2 linked regions of the Homo sapiens genome follow. Changing the gene in region 1 together with any one later gene gives a genetic interaction. Each region holds a gene or a part of one and is shown in the gene's direction. Other genes may lie near its edges.

The links.
Region 2: changes in PSMA3 (region 1) and PTTG1 impair growth when combined (synthetic growth defect), as found in Homo sapiens cells (one large-scale study listed by BioGRID).

What each region holds. Positions count from the first base shown.
Region 1 is NC_000014.9:58,258,120-58,261,953, forward strand, and holds part of PSMA3 (proteasome subunit alpha type-3), read left to right. Parts: intron 1-2,828; coding exon 2,829-2,901; intron 2,902-3,834. UniProt on the Homo sapiens protein: Component of the 20S core proteasome complex involved in the proteolytic degradation of most intracellular proteins. This complex plays numerous essential roles within the cell by associating with different regulatory particles.
Region 2 is NC_000005.10:160,424,822-160,427,347, forward strand, and holds part of PTTG1 (securin), read left to right. Parts: intron 1-2,526. UniProt on the Homo sapiens protein: Regulatory protein, which plays a central role in chromosome stability, in the p53/TP53 pathway, and DNA repair. Probably acts by blocking the action of key proteins.

The sequences.
Region 1 (3,834 bases):
TGATTAAATAAAACAGTGTACATAGAAACTACTTGAGGCTGGGTGCCATGGCTCAAGCCTGTAATCCCAGTACTTTGGGAGGTTGAGGTGGGAGGATCCCTCGCGCCCAGGAGTATGAGACCAGCCTGGCCAACGCAGTGAGAACCTATCTCTACAAAAAAAATTTAAAATTTAGCCAGGTGCAGTATCACATGCCTGTAGTCACAGCTACTTAGGAGCTGCTTGAGAGGATCATTTGAGCCCAGGAGTTGAAGGCTGGAATGAGCTGTGGCCATACCACTGTACTCTAGCTGGCGCAATAGAGACTCTGCCTCTTTAAAAAAAAAAAAAAAAAAAAAAAAAAGGTTTCAATAGTGAAAAGGACTATATAGATCTGAAGTGATTATAAAACAAGGAACTGATAACAATGACTTTAATCTGATTATAATAAGCTCTCGGTGTTAGTCCCTGATATTCTTAGGTAATTTTAAAAATTACGTCTCACAATTCCCATTAGGCACGGTTTCTCTTTCTGTTGAAGTGCTGATATTTTATTGTGGGGTAAAGTGGAGATTCAGCTGCATAAAGACCTGGAATAGGTATAAATATTCAAATTTGGCTTCACAGAGAAGACTTGTGACTAGATTTTTCTAAAATGAAAAGACATGTTTGGCTTATGACTTAAAACAGTCAAACATGTTTGGTCAAAATAATACATATACTAACATCTGAGTGCTCAGCTGTAGTCCTACCTTTGAGTTGTTTATCATCAGTCATATTTAATTACTAAGATATTAAAGAAAACTTGAGTTTTATTCTATTGGTAATATTACATTAGGGTTTTGTTTTTACTTTTTGAGACAGTTACTGTCACCTGAGCTGGAGTGCAGTGGTGCCATCATGGCTGACTGCAGCTTTGACCTGGCTCAAGCGATGCTCCTACCTCAGCCTCCCAAGTAGCTGGGACCACAGGCATGGGCCACCATGCCTGGCTAATTAACAAAATTTTTTTTTGTAGAGACGGGGTCTCACCATGCTGCCCAGGCTGACATTAGTCATTCTTAAGCTTCTCAGTTAAATTACATTATGAAACACTTTGTTTTCAGACCATGTAAAATACCTTTCAACTGAGCTCTGAGTTCATCAGTTAACTTCTCTACTCTTTTTAAGGGAGTAAGAATAGTAGAGATAACTTTTTTTCATAACTTTTTTTTTGTTTGTTTTGTTTTGTTTTGAGATGGAGTCTCGCTCTGTCGCCCAGGCTGGAATGCAGTGGCACGATCTCAGGTCACTGCAACCTCTGCCTCCCGGGTTCAAGCTATTCTCCTGCCTCAACCTCCTGAGTAGCAGGGATTACAAGCACCTGCCACCACGCCCGGCTAATTTTTTTATTTTTAGTACAGTCAGGGTTTCGCCATGTTGGCCAGGCTGGTCTCAAACTCCTGACCTCAAGTGATCCACCTCAGCCTCCCAAAGTGCTGGGATTACAGGCGTGAGCCACCGCACTGGGCCAGAGAGAACTTTTTTAGTAAACATCTATTGGGCACTGAGTTAGTCATAAATGTGGAGACACAGGTGTGAAGTCACATTGATAAAATATTAGTGATATGATAAAGGGACAACAATTAGGGAACGGACTCTTTCTGGACAGGAGGCAAGGAAGAGTGTGAGATGTAGGGAGACTTGGTAGTTGCAAGCACAGGAACTGGTATGAAAATACGTGCGCCAGAGAGAGTTAAGTATGCTTGGTGTGTAGAGTATGAGGTTTAGAGATGATACTGATGTAGGAAGGGGTCCAGTCATATAAAAGTCTGTGCTCCATGCTGATTTTCTTCAAAGAAATGTTGAAAGGCTTTAAAATAGTGACAATGAGCTATATATCCTGAAGGATAAGTCTCATATCGGTAGAAAATGGAAGGAAATGACGGTAGGGATGGGAATTGAATAGTTAAAATATTCCGCATATAAGATGATGTGTAAGATGCTGCTGATTTCTTTTCTACTCTAAGGCAAATATAGTTGTCCCTTGGTATTTGTGGGGGATTGGTTTTAGGACCTCCCATGAATACCAAAATCCAAGGTTGCTGAAGTCCCTGATATAAAATGGTTAAGTATTTGCATATAACCTGTGCATATCCTCCTGTATGTTGTCATCTCTAGATTACTTGCAATACCTAACACAGTGTAAATAGCTGTTACACTGTATTGTTTAGGGAATAATGACAAGAAAATCACAGTTGTTCAGTACAGAAGCAATGTTTTTTGAAAGTTTTCTATCTGTGGTTTGTTGAATCCACAGATGCAGAACTCATGGAAACAGTGCCCACTGTATGTCACAATTTCAGAAAATCAGTATTTCATACAATCAGCTAATAGCCTAATTTGTTGAGCACAGAAAAATACACTGAACCAATTCTGATTATTGCAGAGAAATGATTGGCAGGATATTGGGAAATAGAATGAAGGGTGGAAAGAATTTCACATGGATTCAGTATACTCTCCGTCAGGAATTTTGTTCCCTTGATCTTTTTGTGTTTATGCCTTATTTATTGGGCCCTCTCATAGTTGTGGTTTTCATCTATCGTTACTCCTTTCCCTGTACTGCTAGACTTTCCAGGAGACCTTCATCAGAAAGATTAATACTAAACAAACAAAAGCTACATGAATTTTGAATAATCTCATGTAATAGTTTTAATTAATTGAAACCACTGTTTCAAAGTACTTACTGAGTTATATGTGTATTAGTAATTTATCTCAGAAAGAAAATATAACTGCATTTTAAAATAATTTTTTCACAAATACTTTTATGTTATTGCCATGGTTTAAGCTGTTTGTATACTTTCATGCAGTTTCATGTTAGGGTCTTACAGTGTGAATGACGGTGCGCAACTCTACATGATTGACCCATCAGGTGTTTCATACGTGAGTAATTTTGAATCATTTGAAATTCTATTTTAGTTTAATGGTATTTCATTAGCATTTAAGTCTCATTATAAGATTATATGAAATTAAAAAAAAACTCATTCAAGGAAAGTAATTTTTCTTTTTTTTTTTTTTACAACAACCTCTTGTCCAACAGAATTTTTTTTTTTTTCCTTTTTGGGGGAACAGGGTCTCACTGTGGCCCAGGCTGGAGCACAGTGGTGTGATCACAGCTCACTGCAACCTCTGCCTCCCAGGTTCAAACAGTTCTTCTGCCTCAGCCTCCCGGGTAGCTGGGATTACAGGTGTGCACCACCTGGCTAATTTTTTTTATTTTTAGTAGAAACAGGCCTTTGCCATGTTGGCCAGACTGGTCTTGAATTCCAGTCCTCAAGAGATCTACCCACCTGGGTCTCCCAAAGTGCGAGTATTACAGGTGTGAGCCACCAGGCCCAGCCATGTTTTCTTATCATTAATAACTGATACGAGGCAGAGGAAAGATTTTTTTTCAGTATGTTATTTATAGAAACTGTATAGTGCATATAGTATTTTGAATATGTGATTTTCCTTTATTACTATAAACACTGTCTTAAAACTGTATTTAATGTCTTTTTTCCTCATTCTTGCCCAGGCTGGAGTGCAGTGACACAATCATAGCTCACTTCAGCCTCTCAACTCCTGGGCTCAGGCGATCCTCCTACCTAAGCCTCCCAAGTAGCTGGGACTACAGGCTCATGCCACCATGCCTAGCTAATTTTTGTATTTTTTTGGTGTCTATAGAGACAAGGTCTTTCCACGTTCCCAGGGCTGGTCTCAAACTCCTGGCCTTAAGCAGTCCTCCTGCCTTGGACTCCCAAAATGCTGGGACTACAGGCGTGAGCATCGATGTCCAGCCATGTCATCCCTTTTATTTTATTTATTTATAAGATGGAG
Region 2 (2,526 bases), on another chromosome or scaffold:
AACCATTTCAGGAGAAGCTACTGTGTGTCAGGCATCCTTAGGTCCTGGACACACTGTTTAACAAGATGGGCCCTGCCTATGGGAGCCCATAATTTGAAGGGAAAGTCAGATGCTGGACAAGTCATCTCACTGTGAGTGAGCCAGAAAAAACAGCATTGTAGGTCAAAGTGGTGCAAAGATCGTGAGGTAGGAAAAGAGACTAAAGTGGTTCTAGGAAAAATACAGGCAGGGTAAAGGAGGATACAGGTGAGGTGTGGGATCAGATCAGGGAGGGCCTTACGGATTTCTGAGCTGGATCTTTTACCCTTTTATTTAGCCAAAGAGGTCATGTAGTTATTTTACTAATTTGCATTCAGATTGTTCTGGCTTTTAGAAACTACAAACATTTCTATGATTAGTATTCTTGAAATGATCTTGTTGTAAGTTTGTGAGTACATCTGGAGGGAAACTTTGAGAAGGATTGCTGAGTTCAAGGGCTTGTGTGATTAAGTTTTAAAATTATAAAATGTGGTGCATCCGTGCTAATAATTACCATTCAGCCATTGAGGAAAATGAGGTAGATTTATGCATATTGATGAAGAATGAAGACCACAATATCCTGTGTTACAGGAAAGAGATATTGCTAAGTGGCCCTTCAAAATAGTGTAAATTGTTAAATCCGTCTACAGTGGATGAAGATGTCTGCTTCCTCCAGGTTCACTATCAATGTTTTAAAACTCTAATCTTTATCAGAAAAGAAATATTTCATTGTTTTAAATTTGTTGTGTGTATGGTGAACATATTTGATTATTGGCCACTTACAGTTTTTCTTTTTTTATTAACTTCCGGTTTGTGTTTTTCTTTGATTAAAGAGCTCTTTGTAGATAAAATTAGCTCCCCTTATATTGCAAACTTCTTTCCTCTGGAGTCTTCTGTCTATGGTTTCCTTTACAATTCAGTGGTTTTAAGTTAAATAGTCACATATCATTCAATTCCTTTTTGACTTCTGGGTTTTACCAGGCTTGTAAAAGAGCAGACTAATTCTTGAGTACTTAGGCTTTAGAGAACTTTCACACCTACGGACAAAGATAAGGAAAACCATGATTTTCTAATCTTTTGAGAAAACAGCTCCTTGAAGAAAATTCAGTGTTAAATCCTACTTTTGTTACTGTACAGAAAAATCACTTTTTAAAAATAATTGCTAAGAAGTAAGGTACTTGGATTTTAAGAATGAATGTTACCTAACACAATGGTTCTCCATTTTTTTTTGTTTTGTTTTAAAGACCCTTTTACACTCTTAGAAATTATTGAAGACCACTTTTGCTTGTGTGATCTGCTCTTTTCTGTATTAGAAATTAAGACTGAGAAACTTAAGATATTTATTCACTAAGTAATCACATTACATTAATGTAAATTTTTTTTTAACATAAAATATTTTTTGTTCTGGAAAAGTTTGGAGAAGAATGGCATGGTTTATATTTTTGAAAATTTGCTTTATTTGGCTTAATACAAGACAACTGGATTCTTATCAAATTCTATATTCACTCTTACATCTGTTAAAATATACGAAGAAAACCTGGCTTCACACAGATACGTTTTTAATAGTCTTTTCAGATAAGTGTGGATAGGTTTTTTTGCCACTACACTAAAACCCACAAGTGGCTGTTTCTGAATATAAAATTGCAATGTGGAATCTGAAACCGTATCAATGAGCATTTTGTATCTTGACAGTAAAATCCATTGGTCTATTTTGCACTTGGAATGTATCTTATATTCTTGCATCTATCTTGCATTGACCATTCAGAAATACTGGTTCACTGAGATATGTAGATACCCACATGTTGAGATGCTTTATTATACAATATCAAAAGCACATTAATACCACAACTGATCTCATCAGAAAAGTCTAAGCACCTGTCAAGCTAATGACTGCAGATAAGTTTTCCAAAATTCCTTTTTTTGGCCAGATGCAGTGGCTCACGCCTGTAATCCCAGCACTTTGGGAGGCAAGGCGGGCGGATCACCTGAGGTCACGAGTTCAAGACCAGCCTGGCCAACATGGTGAAACCCCGTCTGTACTAAAAATACAAAAATTATCCGGGTGTGGTGGGCGCACCTGTAATCCCAGCTGCTTGGGAGACTGAGGCAGGAGAATCGCTTGAACCCAGGAGGCAGAGGTTGCAGTGAACGGAGATTGTGCCACTGCACTGCAGCCTAGGTGAAAGAGTGAGACTCTGTCTCAAAAAAAAAATATTCATTTTTTAATTTTTGACAAAATTTTAACGTTTTATATTCTGCCATTGGCAACAAAGGCTGTCAGTTTTCCTTGAGGTGATAGACTTCTTTCATTCCTTTAAGAAAAAGTGTGACAAGCACCCAGGTCTGAGTGACCATGGGATTTCTTGCAGTTGTTAATTCAAGTAAAAACAGTATTCCAGGAAAATGTTCTCTAGTTTTAGCTTGCAACTCATATAGTTGCACAAATCCTTTTAATCGTATTTTGGTGTACAGTGGAAGTGCTTTATGGCATACTTCTCATTTTATCAC